Linked DNA regions of Homo sapiens: regions 1, 3 and 4 are each linked to region 2. Evidence: fine-mapped expression QTL. A gene starts in region 2. Each other region holds a variant in brackets. All regions are shown on one strand. Distances are from middle to middle.

What was found. PIP is the estimated chance that this variant, and not a neighbour inherited with it, causes the effect.
Region 1: its variant is the best candidate, but not a certain one, in a credible set for the expression of FMO3 in prefrontal cortex (BrainSeq, PIP 0.73).
Region 3: its variant is the best candidate, but not a certain one, in a credible set for the expression of FMO3 in visceral fat (GTEx, PIP 0.62).
Region 4: its variant is the best candidate, but not a certain one, in a credible set for the expression of FMO3 in nasal epithelium (TOPMed, PIP 0.52).

Annotation. Positions count from the first base shown.
Region 1 is chr1:171,138,904-171,144,057 of GRCh38, reverse strand. All of the region lies in intron 3 of FMO1-AS1 (FMO1 antisense RNA 1), which reads left to right. It also overlaps the pseudogene FMO6P. Among named protein-coding and RNA genes, the nearest start is that of MIR1295A, 40 kb to the right of the region's middle. The variant AAGG/G (reference allele first, on the strand shown) is at 2,143.
Region 2 is chr1:171,088,893-171,094,046 of GRCh38, reverse strand. It overlaps FMO3 (flavin containing dimethylaniline monoxygenase 3), which reads right to left and starts at 3,142. Exons shown (of 9, transcript NM_001002294.3): 1 at 3,066-3,142; 2 at 1,257-1,394. The coding sequence starts at 1,388.
Region 3 is chr1:171,111,993-171,117,146 of GRCh38, reverse strand. It overlaps FMO3 (flavin containing dimethylaniline monoxygenase 3), which reads right to left. Exons shown (of 9, transcript NM_001002294.3): 7 at 2,785-3,140; 8 at 867-939; 9 at 1-47. Among named protein-coding and RNA genes, the nearest start is that of MIR1295A, 13 kb to the right of the region's middle. The variant C/T (reference allele first, on the strand shown) is at 2,126.
Region 4 is chr1:171,120,021-171,125,174 of GRCh38, reverse strand. It overlaps FMO1-AS1 (FMO1 antisense RNA 1), which reads left to right. Exons shown (of 5, transcript XR_922278.4): 4 at 3,312-3,425; 5 at 4,619-4,803. Among named protein-coding and RNA genes, the nearest start is that of MIR1295A, 21 kb to the right of the region's middle. The variant T/C (reference allele first, on the strand shown) is at 2,440.

The sequences.
Region 1 (5,154 bases), 50 kb before region 2:
CTATTGGAAAATTTTATTTTAACTATACATTTGGGGCTACTCCAGGTAAAATAATGATGTAAATATCACCATGGTTCATAATTTTGCTGATTGTTTTTCCCACTATATGCAAGTGTTCTGCATTTAGCAGCAGTTAATTGAGGTTAAGAGTTCCAAACATACAGACAGAAATGCTCAATAAAGAGTCCCAAATAAATGTAAAACATTATTCTCGCAGAAACAATGCTGAAATCTCACCTTTTTAATAAAAAAACTAATGAACTGAGTGGGTAAAGATGGGGGCAATGACTATATTTCCCATTTAAGTTGTTAACCTTTTCATAATGTAATGGGAGAAACCCTACCAAATGCTCTGGTTTTTTGAACCACAACTCATTGGCATTGAACTGACAAAATTCCTAATATATACTAAAGCATTTTGGATTATTTCCAAAACATCAGAGCATGAGGGTGGAAAGTGGACAATGATGGGCTAGCTGCCTCCATTTTCTAAGGTAGTCTGAAAGCTCTCAGAGACTAGTGAACTAGTAAGTCTAGGAGAGAAAAAATCAATGCATGAATGCTTTATAATCAGAGCCAACATTTGATTACTGAGGTGCCCAAACATTTGGCTCTAATTTTTATAATAGTTTGCTGCCTCCTTTTTCTCTAACCCACACATATCTTAATTTCAACAGTACAAGTTATGAGACCCCTACCTCAAACTGTATGTATCTTAAAAGATCCTTCTTTTGAGCATATGTCTTTATATATTCCTGGAGCTTGCTGTGGTGTATATAGTTTGGGTAATCATCCGGATAAGGGAAGTCTGGAAAGCACATCATTTCTTTGGAAGAGTTTGTGAATACAGACTGGTAAATGCTGGCTCTGCCTTCTTCTGTGTGGTCCTAGGGAGAATAAGAAAGCTTAAAGAGAAAGCCAAGAATTGTGTTCCCTTCAGTGAACACAGTGGTTCAATTCTTGGTTGACTAAAACCCTTTTCATGTTTAAAAGCGTAAACAAAAATTAAAAGCTCTCAGTAAGATAAGGAATGGAAAGCCCTTCGCGTAGCACCTGGCACAGAACTGGAGCTCTTTCCATGTGAATCCTCTTACTGTAATTACCCTCAGTGTTAGCTCTGTCTTTATAGCCACTTAGTGGTTTTTGCTTTCTCCTGTGCCACCACTGGTTCTGATCTTATACTCAGGTTAAAAAAAAAACAAAAAACAAAACTGTCTAGAAGAGGCTCTGACTTCTAGCCTATTTATTTGCTTTTGGAGTTTAGCAAACTCTTCACTGGCAACAACCCAATATTGCAGTGGTTTCCCAGCTTTGGCGTAATGAGAATCGCCTGGAAGCTCCCTAGACCGTAGATTCTTGGGCCCTATTCTTAGAATTTCGGATTCAATCTGTCTGGGGTGGAGTCTGGGGTGGTTTGCATTTCTATCAAGTTCCTGGTGATGCTGATGTGGCTGGTTTAGGAACCACACTTTGAGAACCACTGCTCTGTTGTAAATGAATCCTATTCTTTGGCTCACCAGTTGCTGGACTTCACTCCTCACCAAAGAAACACAGGAAACCAGAGCCCTTAGAACATGTGTTAAATCTTGGCACTTCATTTTAAAGCCTCTGTGTAATTGAAAAGTGGCTTATTTTTTAGAAGCAGTCAAAAGCTAAATTGAAAATAAACATTTCCTCTCAGTTGTGAGGGTAGGGTAAAAGTGCACACAATGTGCTGCCTTGAAAATACATTTCAGAGCTGGCAGCTTCTGCTTCCCGAGGTCCGGAAGGACTCTTGTGCAATGGGGGGAAAGAGATGGAATGTCACGTTGCTGCTGGATTCAAGATGTGTCTCTCCCTCTCACACCAGATGACCTCTGGAAGAGGGAAACAAAAAGTGCTGGAAAGGGTTGAGAGGATTGTGTCCCCGTGGGGAAGTGGGGGGCTGCCCAAAGCCTCAGTATTTTTTCTCAAGTTGAAAACATAATCTTCCTCTATTCATGGTTGCTGTATTTCTCATAAGCGTGGAAGCACAGGAATTTAAACTTTTTAAAATTTTTGTGGAGGTCAGAAAAAGGGTGAAGGCTCATGTCCAGCAGTTTGGCAGGCTGAGTGCTTCCCTTTCACCCACAGCTAGCGCCTTCTACTGATGGTTGTGAGAAG[AAGG/G]AGAGGTGGGAAGGAGGTTTTTTCAGCTGCCTGTTGAAAGGAGGCAGGGCTGAACTGTGGGATGGAGCCTGGTTAAAGAATGTAAGACTCTGTTCTGGGAAACAGATGCTAAGGCCTTGGAATATTTCCATCTTGAATGAATCTCTGCTTTTTTGCCCCTTGACCTCAGCCAATTATAACACCAGGAGAGAAGAGTATGTACACTACAGCTCCTTGGAATTTTTCCGAAAAGACTGTTCTCCAAACAAACACAAAAAAGCAAATGTATTAGATAACAAGTCAGTTGCTCCAGGGAGCATGCATTTTTATTATTTCAATATGAGGTGTGGTTTGAGCCAGTAAGGAGGAAATTCAACTTTGACTCTGCCTCTAGCTGAGGGAGCTTTACCCTGGAACCAGAGATCTAAGCAGCTGTGGGCACCATCTGTCTTGGATGATAACCGTGTTCATCTCTCATCTTTCCCACGAGAACATAAGTAACTTGAGGGCAAAGTCAGAGGTTAATTTCAGAATGTTGTACATGCATCTAAGCAGTTTACCTTGATCTTCTTTCCTATTCCAGCTCTGCTTATGAGTCCCATATCTCCTTGTCTAAATATGCCCTTGAAATATGCTCAAAAGTTGCCTTCAACTTTGTCATGGCTTTCTTTACCTTCCCTCTCAGCTACTGCCAAATCATCTTTAGTTTTACTAAGGTCCCATTATCCTTATTGCCCTAATTATATAGTCACTTATAGTTATTCTGATACTTGTTTTCTCACGGCTTTTAAAGTGCTGGCTGGCCTCTTATCTGCAGCTTATGCTTAATATAGTACCCTACACATAAAGTACACAGTATGTATTCATTGAATGAACAAAGGAATAAATGAGTGGGAAAAAGTTCAAATAGTCCTGGCTTCAGCTTTTGCAATCAAAATGCTACTAACCTATTGGTAAGCATTTTTTTTTTTTTTAATGGAGTCTTTCTCTATTGCCCAGGCTGGAGTGCAGTGGCATAATCTGAGGTCACTGCAACCTCTGCCTCCTGGGTTCAAGAGATTCTCCTGCCTCAGCCTCCTGAGTAGCTGGGATTACAGGCACCCACCACCACACCTGGCTAATTTTTGTGTTTTTAGTAGAGATGGGGTTTTTCTGTGTTGGCCAGGCTGATCTTGAACTCCTGACCTCTCGTGATCCACCCGCTTTGGCCTCCCAAAGTGCTGGGATTATAGGCATGAGCCACCGCACCTGGCTGTTGAGCAACTTCTTATTACAGCAGTAATGAAATCTTTTGAGGACACGAGGCCCTATTTAGGAGTGGATGAAACTTAAAACACACATTCAGCCTGCTAGTATTTAAATCCCATTTGGTTTTCATTTCTCAGAAAAAGCAAATAGTGAAAAGTTCAGAATTACCACGTTTCTGTCTGCTAGAACACCTTCTAAAAAAGGCTTACAAGATAAAGTCTTATGTAACACATAAAAAAAATCCCTCTCTGATTATATATTGTGCCAAGCAACTTTTCTAAGAAAAGAAGGAAGGGCTGGGGTATGTGGAGGAGGCTAAAGTTTTGAGTATTTGTATGGGTCCATATCCTCACCAGGACTTTGAGTAGAATTTTGCTTATAGACATGACCTTATGGAAAAGAAGAATTTCCTCTTGTGGATAACTCAGAATCCAACTTTGAATCTTACTGATCTTTGTATCATATTATTGCTTCCTTAAGTAAACTTTCTGATCTGGCTATATTGGATAACTCATGGATCCCTCTCTGCACACACCATGTTCATTGCCTTTTCTGTGCCTTTCATGGATTGTTGGTCTCTCTTAACCTGGTGCTGGCACACTGCCAATGACTGCATAGGCCTATGGAGTGCCATTCGCAGACTTTATTGGGAAATGCACTCTCTAGGAGTTGTGTCACAGGTGGTCCTCTATTTTGCTTGTCTGGGGTTATCCTTCAAGGCTAAGTGTCATCCCTGTGGGAGGTTTTCTTTGACCTACTAAGATTTCCGTAGTCCACCCTCTTCTAAACGCTCGAGGCACTCGTCCATTGAATTGATGGTGACAAGGTCTATCTTGTTGTTGTAGTTATATAATCTCTTATTTTAAAAGTCTTAGGGCCAGATATATTTTGGAATGTGTACATTTTTGGATTTTGCTCCATAATACTCCTAGTGAGATCTGGGGCAGCAATCTGTCAAATGCAATAAAATTTCTGCCGTGCAACAGAAGGTGAGACTTAGCTTCATGTTGATCCAATTCACGGTATTTAACCTTACGATTTCAGAAGAGGTTCGGCTATCAAATGAGTTTTTGCCCATTTGCTATCAAAGGATTACGGAATTATATTATGGCTTGCTTAATCAAATGAAATGGAACCATTTACAAGGAGTGATTATATTCCATATTTGTCATCCCAGTACTTAGCACAAACTACCAGAATAGATGCTCAAGCATCATTTAATTGTTACTAGGGAGATGGTAGAAAGCCATTTTATGATTTACTCTAAGCTGTCCACATTTCCCTGAGCAAATGTAAATAGGGAAAATTAAATTCTTGAAAAATATTAACTCTTGATTACCCCCTACTGGGAAATAAAAATTAATGACCTTATATCTCATGGAGTGCTTTCAGGGTTACAAAACCACAAATTTTTTTAAAAAAAGCTTGGAGAAGAATAAAAATGTGTTCTAAGTTAGCACTGATATACTCTATTGGAGGAGGCTATTGGCGCAGGCAGAGCAGTAACTGAGACCAGGACAGGAAGTAGTTACAATATGAATGATGTGAATATGTTTTCAAGCCAAATATGTATCATCGACAACTGATTACAATGGCTGGGAAATCCAGGACAGAAGAACTAGAAGTTTCTCCAAACTTGGCTTTGAAATTAAAAAAAAAAATGTGTTTACAAGGACTATTTCCTAATTATATTATTTCTACAATGAGCCCAAATGGCAAAGACCATAATTTTTCCCTCTGGATTTGGAGCTGATAGGCTATTCAACAGCCGCACACACAATC
Region 2 (5,154 bases):
GACCAGCTTTGTCAACATGGCGAAACTCTGTCTCTACTAAAAATACAAAAATTAGCTGGGTGTGGGCACCTGTAACCCCAGCTACTCGGGAGGCTGAGGTAGGAGAATCGTTTGAACCCAGGAGGTGGAGGCTGCAGTGAACTGAGATGGCGCCACTGCCCTCCAGCCTGGGAGACAGAGTGAGACTCCCACTCAAAAAAAAAAAAAAAAAAAAAAAAAGATATTAGTGAGTATGTGGAGAAAAGGAAACACTGTTGGTTGGAATATAAACTATAGAAAACAGTATGGAGATTTCACAAAGAATTAAAAATAGAACTACCATTTGACCCAACAATGCCCCTAGTAGATATCTATCCAAAGGAAAAGAAGTCATTATATAAAAAAAATTCCTGCACCCATATGTTTATCGCAGCACCATTCACAATAGCAAAGAAATGGAATCAACCTTGTTGTCCAATAAGGATGATTGGATAAAGAAAATGTGGTATATACATACATATATGTATATATACACACAGACGCATATACATATATATGTATGTATATATGCACACACCATGGAATACTACCCAGCGAGAATACAGAATGAAATTATGTCTTCTGCAGCAACATGGATGGGACTGGAGGCCATTATCTTAAGTGAAATAACTCAGAAACAGAAAGTGAAATACCACATATTCTCTCACTTACGATTGGGAGCTACATAATGTATACACATTGACATAGAATGTGGGAATAATAGACATTGGAGACTTGGAAGGGTAGGAGAGTGGGAGGCGGTTGAGGTATGAGAAATTACTTAATGGGTGCAATGTACATTATTTGGGTCATGGCTACACAAAAGCCCAGACTTAACTGCTATACATTATATCCATGTAATAAAACTGCACTTGTACCCCCTAAATCTGTAAAAAAAAAAAAAGATGTGAAAAGTTATTGTGTTTTAAATGAGTAAATAATTATAACTACATAAACCTAACTAATATTTACCACTAATTTTATGTCCAAGTGGCTCTTATTAATGATCTATCAAGGGAGAACTGTAATGGAGAATTTCAAAGCCCATTGTCTAATTTACTTCTGACTTGCAAGGAGGTTACTTTCCAACCTGCTCTTGACACTGTACTTAGTGGATTCCAATTCTAACAGATATGATAACTGCCATGGTAGCAGGTTTGGAAACCTGTGTGCACACAGTGTGCTCTTATACACTTCCCAACCTATTTTCCTGTCTATTACAACAACATGCTACTCACTGAAAATTTCCACAGGCCCCCAATGTCATTGCTCTTCTCAAAGCAGGTGGGCTCCAGCCCCTCTTCCAGACAGCTCCTGATGGAGGCCAAGCCACTCACACCAGCTCCAATGATGGCCACTTTCTTCCCCATGGTAACCTGTGCAAAGGCCCAGAGAACATTTCCAGTAACAACATTGCTGAAAATGTATTTACTTATTTATCTATTTATTTTGATTTCGCTCTTTGGCTTAATAAAAACTTTACTTTTTAATAAACACTGGCTGAGTATGGTAGCTCACGCCTGTAATCCCAGCACTTTGGGAGGCTGAGGTGGGAGGATCACTTGAGCCCAGGAGTTTGAAAGCAGCCTGGACAACAGAGTGAGACCCTGTCTCCACAAAACAAAACAAAAAACAAACAAAATCAGCTGGGTGTGGTGGCACATGCCTGTACTCCCAGCTACTCAGGAGGCTGAGGCGGTAGGATCACTTGAGTTCAGGAGTTCCAGGCTGCAGTGAGCCGTGATTGTACCACTGCACTCCAGCCTGGGTGACAGAGTAAGACCTTGTCTCTAGAAAACAAATTCCTTTTAGTGATCTAACTACATTTTCATTTCTCTCTAATTTCTAAAGAGAAAGTTTTCTTCTGAAAAAAAAATAAGCACTTTGTTTTTAGTCATCAGCTCTCCAAAATTAAGAGACTGATGACCCAGCATACATATTTATCTTTTTTGCTTTTGGACTTTGTCATTTACTGTCTACCAAAAAGAGTAAGCAGAAGAAATAAAGATTCGCAACTAAAACACCTGTAGACACATCCACCCACCCACCCACATACATATGCCTGTATATGGGAATGAAGAAACACATATGTATATGTATACACACACACAGTCATACACACACACACACACACACGCAATCTGTATCTTCTTTTTACTTAGATACGGATAATGAGGAACAAGGTCTGAAGATGTCTGTATTTCAGTGTGCCAGGTAGTCACCCCTTCTCCCCATCAATAATGTACTTCACCTTCTCAATTAAAAAGACAAGTAAATGGTGCATACCTATAGTCCCAGCTACTCTGGGATTATATAGTCCTGTTGAGCTGGGGTATCGCTTGAGCCCAGGAGTTTGAGGCTGCAGTGAGCTATGGTTACAGCACTGCACTGTAGCCTAGGTGACAGAGTGAGACCTTCTCTCCGGGGGGTGTTGGGGAAAGAAGTCATGTTCTTACCTAAAAACAATTTTTTCCCACTACCTTCAGCGTCCATTCCCCTCTAAGAAAATTACGTTTCCTAACTTTTTTCTGTTCCTGACACTGTCTTTAGGCTCTACCACTACTTCTTTCACTACTTTTTTTTTTCTTTTTAGACAAAATCACATAGCTATGCAGGGAAATAGACTTGGATGATTAAACATCATGATCCGTGATTCCCAGAAACAAACAAACTGCCTGAATTATATCATTCTCATTCTAGCCATATTTGGTATAAAACTACAGCATGCTCCTTCTTCATTTACCCATCCCACCCTCAACCCTTTACTATATCACCTTTTATTCTTTTTCTTTTCTTTTTTTTTTTGAGACGGAGTTTCGCTTTTATCCAGGTTGGAGTACAATGGTGTGATCTCGGCTCACTGCAACCTCTGCCTCCCAGATTCAAGTGATTCTCCTGCCTCAGCCTCCCAAGTAGCTGGGATTACAGGCATGCACCACTACGCCTGGCTAATTTTTGTATCTTTGGTAGAGATTTGGTTTCACCATGTTGGTCAGGCTGGTCTCAAGCTCCTGACCTCAGGTGATCCACCCGCCTCAGCCTCCTACCTTTTTAATTTTCCTACCCGTTCTTTGTCTTCTTTTCTTCTGTGTGTCTACGTCCTGTCCAACCGTCTGGGCAGTTTGAAAGAGAAAATGTTCTAGTGAGCCTACATATTAGGAAGATTGTTGAAAAATGGGAGGAGCTGCTCTTAAAGAGATACTCATTTATTGGTCCTTGAATGGGTGAGCACACGCCAACCCTCTGTGATGGATGGGACTGTAGGCCAGTCTCCCATGGCCACCCAGTTTCTACTTTTCCTTTGATTATGGTAAACACAAGCTGCTGGTTATACTCTTGGACCCTTGGCCTGGGAGTCAAGTAGTTTCTCCCAGGTGACTTTGCAGTTCTGTACTCCATTTTATTATGTGTTATTTGAAAGTTTACCTTGTTTTCCTTATTCCTAGTTCTTTTGTGGGTAGCTCATAGTAGTCCTCCAAATACTGTAGAAACTTAGCTACTTAATTGAGATAGCCCAATAAGGAGGATGACTTTTCTCTGCTCTCTCTTTTCATGTCCTGTCTTGGAATTTTGGGGTCAAAGGCCTGTATTTCTCAAGCTTATATTTACTTGTTTCTGAGTACAGTGTGTGGTCACAGAAAAGATCAAAATTCCACAAATTGATCTATTAGTACCAGGAACCAGGTAAAATTAGTACCAGGTAAAATTATGTTGGCAGTTAGACAAAATAAACTGCACCTAACTCCCAGTCATGAAATATAGTAGAATTTCAAAAAAAGTTTTCCTATCAACTATATTTTGATGTCACTTAGAATTATAACATCTCACTCATTTTGTCTAGTTAACTCCTTCATTAAGCAAGTGATACTTAGTGTAAACTGGTATATGTCTAATTTTGAGGAATTACCCTTCATGCCTTTTGAAGACAGTAATCTTCATCTCTGAAGTGTGAGTATGAGAGATTCCAAATCACTTCTATAGCTCTGTGGCCTTGGGCAAATCACTTAACCTTTCCAATCGTTGATTTACTCATTAATAAAATAGGGATAACTACACTATTAATTCCTGTCTGGCTATTTTTTTTTTAACAAGGATTAGAGGATTAAAGGGTATGTACACATAAATACATGTATACATAGGTACATATAAAATGTGGCATGTAGTTAAAAATGAGCAAATGTGACTTGTAGATAAAAATTAAAAACAAGTCATAGGTTCATGAAATTTTCTAGGGCTGCAATTCAGACAACATGATTTTCTCTGCTCTCATTTTACATAGAACTTCTTTTCAGTTTTTAATGCTACATAAATAGAATTAAAATAATGCAAAGAAAAGATTGTGACTACTTCAGGAAGCAATACTACTCCTATAGCCTTATTCATTTAAAGATTGGCAGGACACACCCAATTCTACCTTGGCCTCCGATGTTTTATCTCTCTAGGAGGTGAAAAGGCCACCTATTCTTTGCTGTCCTTCACAAGAATGTATCTGAAGTCGACACATTTATTAGTCCTGTCTCTCTCTAGCCTATCCTTTGCTTGCCACAGCTTTCTGCAGAGCCCCTTTTTAAATCTTCAGAATCTCAAATGCCCAGGCTCTGGTTGGGGCAGTGGGCATTCTCTACTCTGTTGTCCCCTCCAAATCACAAAACTGCTAAGAAGAAACTTTCATCCCTGGATGGTTGCTAGATTATTGTTGCTGTTGGAGGATATGAGTGGAAGACTTATATTCTGTTCTCTTGCTCTATATTTTCTTTGTATTTTAAAGAAATTTTTGTTTTCTTCTAATTGATTTGCTGGAGGCAAGGCATATATCTCTTGTGACACCTGTTGTCATGTCTGATGATGCATAACAGTTGAAAGATTTCTATAAAATGAGAGTGGCTTTTGGAGACTCAGACTTGATCATCAAAGCTATGATGGAACATTCCAAAGATGTGGATTCTTTAGGGTCCATATTCTGAAGCTAATATCTCGTAAAGAATCGAGTGAACAACAATTAGTGCAGGCAGTGCTAAATGAAGCTGACAGTCTGTTGCATCTTCTGCTACAAGTTTAAAAAGTGTCTCAAACTTTTTTAGTTTCATAGCCAGAGGAATGCTGTGTTTATTTCCAAAGATATATTTTTTCATATGT
Region 3 (5,154 bases), 23 kb before region 2:
CCATATAAACAATGTAATCTGTCTGTATGGTCTCGCTTTTGCCAAACCTGGAGATGGGAGAGAAAACACCACTGTGGATACCCAAACTCTGTGTAGAAACAGAACAGAGAAAATGGCTCGCAACTTTATATCAGTGAGAATTAACATCAATCTCTCTCTCTTTCTAAAAAAATTTCCCACACTACCCTGACATACAACATCAATTTCTTGTATAAGGAGAATGTCATTTGTTTATCCTACTTTGTGGTTTTTTTAAAGAACTTTCATATGGTTTCATTTGGAAATACCCCAACACTGCAATGCAGCTGAGAAAGACATTTTTTATCCTTATTTACAAATGGATAGATTGCCTCTTGCTCAAATGACCCTTCTATAATAGTTCATGGCCACTGAGCTAATTAGTGACAACTAGAAATGGAGCCCAGTTCTCCAGATTCATTCTCACTTTTCTGAGTCATTTTCATTAGAGGTATACCTTTGAAATATCCTCTACATCTTAGAGAATTTATGGGCTAGAGAATGGAAGTCCACATCCATGTGTTCCCAAACTCCTCTGATTTCAAATCCTTTCTGGGTCTCCTTTCTATGATATATATTACAGGAGGCATGGAGGGCTAAAACTGTCTATGTAATGTAGATTCTCAATCCTATTATTTACTCTGTGCCTTGTACTAAAAAGAACTTAATACAATGTCAGAAGCAACGTAGGTCTTCAATTAATATTTGTTGAATGGATGAATATAGCTTGTAGTTGTCATTCCAATGATGTCATTCAGGATAATTTAAGATTAAAACAGTTCCAAGCATTCATAAATTCTCACTTTTCTATGGAAATCCTACACTCCTATTACAATAGGTACTCTTACCATTTGCGCTTTTTCTCCATTTTCTCATTAATATCATTCATCATGTCTTCCATAGAAGGCAAAGTACAAGTTCCTGATAAAGAAGGAAAGACACGATGGTAATTAATGAGTCTGGCATAGGACCAGCCTGTAATTTTCCCTTTTTAATAATGAGTTATGAATTACATTAATTGGTGTTCATTTTCAGACAGACACCAAATTCAGTTCTAGTCTTCTCAGAACTCATATTTGTCATAATAATTAAAAAACATTACCTAAATAGCTTTGCTCTTAAACTGGTTACAAGATGTTTCAAAACAGTTTCATAGATATATTTTAATCTCAGTCATATTTTAAGAATGTTGTCTTTTAAATTATAGCCAAACAGAGGTGAATTGGCATCACTTTTCCAAGATTTATGAAGAAAAATCTTCATAGAAATTAATCCTGCTTTGCCAGAAAATGGAATTTCCAGAAGATAAGATATCGAATTTGGTGAAGGGCTAAGTTTTTCTATGGGAAGCCAGTAGTTCTTGAATATGACTGAGGATATGGACTGTCCACAAGTCACCAAGGACATAAGGGAGACCCAGGAGACTAGATCTGACTTGGGGCTGCCCCAGGATCCAGGTTTACATAAGTTTGCAGAGTTCTCTAAAACCCAGACCAAAACAGCCTTTTGTGTCCAGAAATACTTCAAATTTAGGATGATTTCTTTGGTAATCTTGGTATCAACTTGAAAGAGAATAAAACTCTTAGCCCAGATATGATTACTCAAGACCTACAATGGCTTGCTTAATTTCCCATTTCTACACTTCTTATAGGGAGGGTCACTTGAACAGCTTTTGTAGATATGGTATGGTTCCAGGCCTTGGAACTTGTCATGCTTTTCAGAGGAAGAGATTGAAAAGAAAGAGACTGTTTTTTAGCCTGCCGACTACTGCCATTGGGTTGCTTGTAACTAGCCCCTCTTGTCTTGGTACTCTGGTTTTCCAAATCTAGGTTGTTTGCCTTGTGTCTCATTTCCCTTAAGAGAGCCTGTGCCGTGTACATCAATTTTCCCCATAAATTGCCTTGTTTCCTTTCTTCAGAGCCCAAGTTACAACTCTTGTCCTCATAGAGAGTAAGGGTAGCACCCTTCCTTTAATGCCAGCCTCTCTGGGTCTGAACCCTAAGTGGAATCCTGAGTGAAATTTCATGCCATTACCTTCCTGGCTACCTGGTCGTGTGATCTGCATCTCCCCACAACTGTATTCCAGCCTGCTGCTGGGGGATGCTGC[C/T]TGCCTTTCTTGCCTGACCCCAATCAAGTTTGTTGTTTCCTTTGTAAAATATAAGAACTCAGTATTCTTATGTATTACAGACTGATCATCTACTACACTGAGCACTTTCTGCCTCTATTGATCCACTGTTTGTTCTTAGCACTTTCTGCCTCTGTTGATCCACTGTTTGTCCTTTTTTTGTCAGGGAAGAAAATAATAGTAGAAAAGCCATTGCCTTCCAGCAATCATATTTTCCATGACTGTGGATATTTGAAGTTGGCTGGATGTTGGCTCGTAAACATATTTTCTTATGAACTTTTCAAGCAATGTAATTCTACTGAGTTTTGCAATCATAATTTTATAAAGTTGTCATTCACTTAGTCTTAAGTGGATGTGAGCTTTGGTGGTCTCAAGTCTAATAAATGATCTTGGGTAATTATCAGCTGTAAGAAGTTGTAGTCACAAAATGCCTCCTCTAATAATATCTTGTAGTATTTCATACAATAATCCAAACTGGTATACTTTAAATTGCTAACAAAATATAGCACTAAAGAATATAGAATTATAAATTTTCAAAACTGAAGGGGACCTTGTAACTAGGATTATTGTTTTCACAAAGATCCAAAGTTATTGTCACTGGCATTCATCTTCGCAATCCATGAGCCTCTTTATTGACTTACCCTTTATTACTTGTGCTGCCCAGCGGGACTGGAGGTCAACTGTGGGAATGGCAGCCCCAAGGGACTGGACAAAGCCAATCACTGCTATGGTTGACTTCTCAAGTAGAGGAGGAAATACTCCTTTAAATAAAATGATCTCATTGTTTCTGCTTTTGATGATAGACTCATCAAGGAAGGGGTAGGCAAAACTATACCCTGTTGCAAAGATTACACAGTCAATGCCCTCAAATATGGTCCCATCCTCAAAAATGGCCGAGGTCTCTGTGAATTCCTTCACGTTAGGCTTTACGGACACAATGCCACACAGAATGCTTGCTGGGAGCTCATCGTTAAATACAGGCTCTTTCCTCAGGACTCTGTATGGAAAACAGAGACAATTATTGGAAGTGTAATATTTCCCTCTTGTTTTATTGGTCCATATATAAATTGATAAGGAAGGAAAAAATGACCCAAGATTTTTTTTTTCTGAGGCATAGAGTATCTCCAATATGGCTGAAGAACAAAATTGATGGGAGGCAACATTGGGAAGTAAGAGAAGTTGTTATTTGCTGGCCCCATCTCTATTTTCTGTGATCCTTCTCTTCCATGGAGCTCTTTCCAAATCCCGGAATAAAGGCTTATGCCCAGTTCCCTGTTAAAGCCTGTTTCAGGAAAAACTCTGAAGTGAGGGTACCTCGGTGTTTACATTTTTAAAGTTGCTACTTATTCAGTGGGAACCTTGATGAGATTATGTTTTTTAAATTCTTGGTGTCTCATATTTCTCATCTGGAATGTCAGTAATGTTTGTACTACCTCAGAAGTTCCCTAAATGATATAAAGAGTTTTGCACAGTCTCTAGCATATGCATGGAGCTCGAAAATGTTAACTGTTATTCTTAATTCAGTATACTCCAAGATGGTCATCATACTGTGGAGAAGACCAAATAGGAGGAGGAAAGTCAAAGGTGTGAGAGCTGCAGCTGGGCTCTTGAGGGATGAAGTATGAGCCCCATGCAGACAGAGGCACCAATCAGGTGAAGGAGGGAGCACCCAGGAATTTAAATAAGGCCAGAGGGAGGGTGCCAGTTTGAGGCTTTGGCAACTGCAAGTCTGGAAAGAGAGAGCTTTGGACTACTTTTTATTCAATAATATCTGTAGTGGGAGCAGAGAAATCTGAACCCAGGGATGAATGTGAATACAGTTGAAGGAAAGAGTGTTGTTCTTGTATGGCTGTGGGAGCTGTGAGAGAGTGCTACAGGCAGATTCCACTGGAGAACAAACTCCATCACCACGCTGAAACTGCTCTTGTCAAGGCCATCAGAATCAGGCTCCCAGATCCAGTGGTCCACCCTCACTTTCCCTTTTACTCAACTTAGCATTTAACATAATTGATGGTTTCCTCTTTCTTGAAACACTGTATTCATTTTGTTTCCAGGTCATCACTCTCTCTCAGTTCCTTTCCTACTTTGCTGGCTATTCTTTTTCTGTCTCCCACAGATGTCTTCTCCTCTTCCTGACTTCTGACAATGGCATACCTCAGGACTCAGTCCCCAGACCTTTAGTCTCCTCCATTTACATGCATTCTTCAAGAGATGTCATCTAGTTCCATTTCTTCAGGAAAAATTTTCTCATGACTCCAGAGTTTTAACTTCTGGTTTGAGCCTCCCTCCTGTCTTGTGTTTCCCACTGCTGGCTCAACATTCTTCTACCAGAATGTCTAATAGGCATTCCAACTTTAATATGTCTAAAACTGAACTTCTGTTCCTCCTGCAGTTTTTCACATTTTAGTAAACGTCAATGTCATCCTTTTTCAAATATCTTGAAGACATTCTTACTCCCTCCTTGCTCTCTCATCCTCTATCCAGTCCACAGAAAATCCTATTTGGGTCGACCTTCAAGCTATCCAGAAATCTGCCCAATTCTGACCACTCACTGCTAACAATTTTGGTCCAGACCAACATCCCCTCTGATTCAGGTTTTTGAGAGTAGCTTTTTAACTGGTCCTTTCACTTCCTTCCTTGCCCTACCCTTACATTGAATGATGACCACAGCAGCCGATCAATCTCTGCAATGCTAATTTAGGTCTTGTAATTCATTTGCTCAGATGCCTGCTGTAGTTTCCCATTGCTTTCAGAGTAAAAGCCAGAGTCCTTACAATGATCTACAAGGCCCACGCCATCCAACAATTTTTATGTCTCTGGTTTTATCTCCTGGCATTCTCCCCTCATTCTCTTTTCTCAAGGAAGAGAAGCCCCATTGTTGTTTGTTGATCATGCCAGCCCTGCCCGTAAATGCCCTGGCTGTGTCCTCAGTCTGGAATACCCTTCCCCTGAGACCCTCATGGCTCATTCCCTCAACTCCTTCAGAGGTTTTCTTAAAAGTCTCCTCCCTG
Region 4 (5,154 bases), 31 kb before region 2:
GGGAGAAAACTCTAAATAGTATAGTTTGTCTGGAACATAGTTACAAATAAGACTGGAAAAGTAGCTTTAGTCATATTGGGAGGCCCCTTGTATGAGATTTAAATGGGGAGAAAGAAGAACCAGTAAAGAATTGTATGCACGTGTAATGTGTTTTAGAGGCTCACTTCAGGAAGATGATTCTGGCAGTAGTATACAGGATAAACTATGACAGGGAAACTAAAGTCTAGCTGGCCAGTTAGAGGCCTATTCCAACAGACTAAGAAATTATGATAGCTGGGAGTGGGGTGGTATGTTCCATGTACTCGGGAGGCTCAGATGGGAGGACTGCTTGAGCCCAGGAGTTCCAGGCCAGCCTGGACAACATAACAAAAACCTGCCTCTAAAAAAACCGAAACAAAACATGAACAAAAAATTAAAAAACAAACCAGGCAGCAAAAGCAAAATAGACAAATAATACTATATCAAAATTAAAAAAAATAATGATAGCCAGATCTAATTTGCCAGAGTGGGAATTATAAGATGGAAAGAGGCAAAAGAGATAGAGAAAGTAGACTTTATAGAACCTATCCTTAGATTGCAAGTGGGGATTCAAGCCAGGGGAAGAGAGAATGAGGCTGAAATATTGAGTCTGGGTATGGGTAGCATAAAAATGAGAGAGAGAGAGAAGAAATGATGAAATGAATTGGTCGAAGGCACAGTGGGGTGGGAACAAGCATTGAAGATGCCAAAAAGGAGCATTCTGCTGATTTAGAATGAGATCTTACTGGGATAAAATAGAAGGAATTGCAGCTGGATTTCTGCACTAGAGATTAGGGAAATATAGAACTTCAGAATATTGATAAATTGACTAGAAATCCATCAGGTTTGGGGCTGATACACTGTAAGCAATATAGTTTCAGTAGCTTAAGAAAAAGTACACCTGGGACTCAAAGGGAGTTGGTAACCACTGGCCTCACATGTTTCCTGGGTTGCTTTGGTTTGCAACTAGAGGACTGGACTAGACAACTTTTAAGGCCATTTGTTTTCTATTATTCTATGTCATGATATGTTCTCTATTAATTTTAATTTTAATTTTTTTTTGAGACGGAGTCTTGCTCTGTCACCAGGCTGGAGTGCAGTGGCACGATCTCAGCTCACTGCAACCTCTGCCTCCCGTGTTCAAGCAATTCTCCTGCCTCAGCCAACTGAATAGCTGGGACTACAGGTGCCCGCCACCACATCTGGCTATTTTTTGTATTTTTAGTAGAGGCAAGGTTTCACCATGTTGGCCAGGATGGTCTTGATCTCTTGACCTCGTCATCCACCTGCCTCGGCCTCCCAAAGTGCTGGGATTATAGGCGTGAGCCACTGTGTTTGGCCCGTGTATTTTTAAATAGACTGTTTTCCCCTGATAGAATGTGACTTTCTTAAAAGTGGGATTATTTTAATATAATTTCCTGTTAAATCTCCAGGTCCTAGAATATACCCTAGTACATAACTAGTACAAAAACTGTTGGTAGAAAGCATGAATTCTGTTTGCCCTTTACTATTATCATTTTTATGGAAACTTTTGCCCTGGAAAACATGATAATTATTCTGGAGCTGAAAAACTGTGCTGTGATTTGGATATACTTTGCTTGGCCCTATCAAGTCTCAGGTTGACATTTGATCCCAATGTTGGAGGTGGGTCCTGGTGGGAGGTATTTGGATCTTGAGGGTGGACCTCTCATGAACTGCTTGGTGTCATCCTCACAGGAGTGAGTTCTCACTCTTAGTTCTGTGAGAATTGGTTGTTAAAAAGAGTCTGATGCCTCCTCCTCTCTCTACTGCTTCCTGCCTTACCATGTAATTTCTGCACACATCAGTTCCCCTTTCCCTTCCATCATGAGTGGAAGCAGCCTGAGGCCCTCATCAGAAGCAGATACTAGTGCAATGCTTTTGTACAGCCTGCAGAACCATGAGCCAAAGAAACCTTTTTTCTTTATAAATTATCCAGCCTCAGATATTCCTTTATAGCAGGACATATGGGCTGAGACACAGTGGCACTGGAAAGCTATTTGCAGTAGAGCAGCAGTCTAAAAATAAGCAGATCATGTGACCCCCACTATTATTTGTCTGTTTTATGTTCCACAGGAAGAAAACTGCTTGAAAACAGGCTGGGGGAACAACATAAAACACTGACAGGAGTTGTGTTATCTGACAGGATGCAAATTACACAGTGAAATTTAGATAACCATTTGCCATTATCTTGCTGGAAAATTTTCAAAAGTTTAACATTTATCTTTGAAGGCTCTGAGCTGAAATTCATAGCTCAGAGCCCCTCTTTAATTTACTCAAGCTTGGGAGAGGAGATTTAATAATTGCCAGTTGTGCCTTCACACAGAAGCACATTTTCACCTAAACACAGAGAAATTTCAGTCTGCTGAGTTTGCTGTTCCTGATCACTAAGCCAATCCAAAC[T/C]AAGGCGAAAGGTGAACAATTGTCAGCTGCAGGGCCTGGAATTAGTTTTCCTTTGGTAATATTGGTATCTGGTATAAACTCTGCACCTGTTCCCTCACCAATCCTTTGGTAAATCCTACTGGGCTGGCTCCTTCTGGTGGTCATGAGAAGTTGCAGATCTCCAACTACAGGGAGCATAATTGACCAATGGACCCAAACTACAGGGAGCATAATTGACCAATGGACCCAAGCTGCTCATTGAATGCTGTCTTTGAACTGAGGCTGTACTTGTTCAGGCTATTCCCAGCCAATGACTGAGTATGGCAGAGATACCTAGGCAGGCCTCTGCCTTATAGACACAGGGCTCTTCTGATGCCCAACTTTGTTCAGGCATTCCCCTGCAGCTTTGCCAAACCATTCCTAGACTGCTTGGCAGTCTGGAATGTTTTCACCCAACTCTCCTCCCCTCACTTCTTCGCTTGGGGTCATACTTGCATCCCTGTCTGACAGCTCTCCCTGTCTTTTCCAGCTCCTTTCCTATTATCTTTCACAGGTATTCTCCTGATCAATTCCTTGCATGTTTAGTCGTATGTTGTCATATGCTCCTTGGAGGACCTTTCTTAGAGAATATACCCATGCTCTATGACTTGACTTATTGGAGCCTTATTCTGATCTCCAGGCCACTTGATTGGGACTCTGGTAGTCTGTCTGGTTCTTAGGAGTATCCCTTACCTGTAACTAGGAGCTAAATCTTTTCTTCATGTCATTTACTTCTGGCTGGAGTCTTATTCCACCAATGTATGGGCTATCTAGAATGACATTGGTCTTCTGGAACCATTTGTAAGATTTTGACTCTTGTTACAATTGAGGAACTCATCTTGTCCTCATTGTAGCTATGACCGAGAAACCAAGGAACTCACTATCTTGTCCTCTTGGATGCCAGCTATAAATTGAATCAAGTTGGACACCGGAATTTTGACCACTTTCCACCTTTCTATCGTGGTCAGGTAAGTTGCATAAGCCTGTGATATGCATGATTTTGGACTTTGTTCCTTTTCACACTGGCCTACAGTTGAGGTACCAGATTCTCATACATCAATAATTAAAGTAGTAATCACTTATATGAGATGTTGAAATGTACTCCCTTCAAGAAAGGTGACATTTTCAGCTGTTTTCTTAATGGGAAAACATTATTAGTGGGAGCAAACTACAGATCCTTCAATGAGATTAGTGTGAAAGCAGAAGAAATGTGAAGGCAGTGGCTATTTGAGTGACATGAAAATATTCTAAGGGGCACAAAAGCAGAAAGGGAAAGCCGGTAACTTCACAGAAATCTCATTGCCTCCATAGTTTTTCCCAACATCAGGAAGTGCCTTTCTACAAACCTGTGGCATGAACTTAACAGAAAGAATTGAAATTTCTACTTGTTGGATAACTACACAGTTACACAACAAACAAGAGGCTATACATTTCCATGTGGAGACTAATATTACAACTTAATCCTTTTGGCAATCAGAGATGGGCAATTATGTTTCCAACTTAGAAAGCTTTCTATTTTCAGGGCTTTCTTCATACTTAAATCTGGTAACCAAGCCTATGAAAAGAAGTTTTAAATACAGCAGGTATAAATGTCTGTAGGAAAAGGCTTGAGCAGTGTAGGTACCATCTCAGAATTATAAGAGGGTGGACAGAACTTCTTTTGTTAAATACTATTATCTTAACCCAAGAGAACTGTCAATAGAGAGCTGAGTTTCTGGATTATGGGTGCTTCCCTCCTATGTCTTAAGATTAGCCAGCAGCATGCAAGGAATTGGAAGCATGTCCTCACATGACACAGCAAGAAGGGTGACAAGATCCTATTTGCGTTTGAAAAAGTTTACTCTTGCTGCTGCATACAAAATGGAATGTTAAGATGCAAGAATGGAATCAAGAAGGAGGCTCTTAGAATAATGGGTAAGAGTTAATGGTGGCTTTGACCTGAGTGGAGGCTGTGGAGGTAGACAGAAGTGAGAACATTTGCTGATGCTGTAGGTAGGGGAATGGTGAGGTGTTATGGATGGACTTGTGTCACTCTCAAATTTATATATTGAAGTTCTAACCCCTAGTACTTCAGAATGTTACTATATTTGAAGACAGCATTCTTAAAAAGGCTATTAAGTTAAAATGAGGTCATAGGGTTGTCCCTAATCCAATATAATAGGTTTCTTCATGAGAAGAGGAGATTCGGTCACAGGCATGTACAGAAGAAGACTGTGTGAAGACACAGAAGAAGTTATCTACAAACCAACGAGAGAGGCTTCAGAAGAAACCAACATTGTTGACACCCTGATCTTGGATTTCTAGACTCAGGAATTATGAGAAAATAAATTTTTATTGTTTAAGCCACCCAGTCTGTGGTACTTTCTTATGGCATCCCTGGCTAATGAATACAGGAGGCAGCTAAAGGAATTGAGGATTATGCCTAGTTTTGTGGCTTGAGAAATGGGGTATTTAGAGGTCTCATTACCAGGACGAGTAAGATTGAGGAAAGAACATGTTTGGAATCTATATGGGAATGTTGGTGGTGGGAAAAACTGAGAGGTAAATGTAGTAGTTTATGTGTGGGATGCCTATGCACATGCAAGAAAAGATATCAAGGAGGCAATGGTATGTGCAAATCTGGAAATTTTATAAATTCTTATGCAGATGACTTAAATAAATAAATTTGAACCCTGTCATCTATTCTCAATCCCTTCT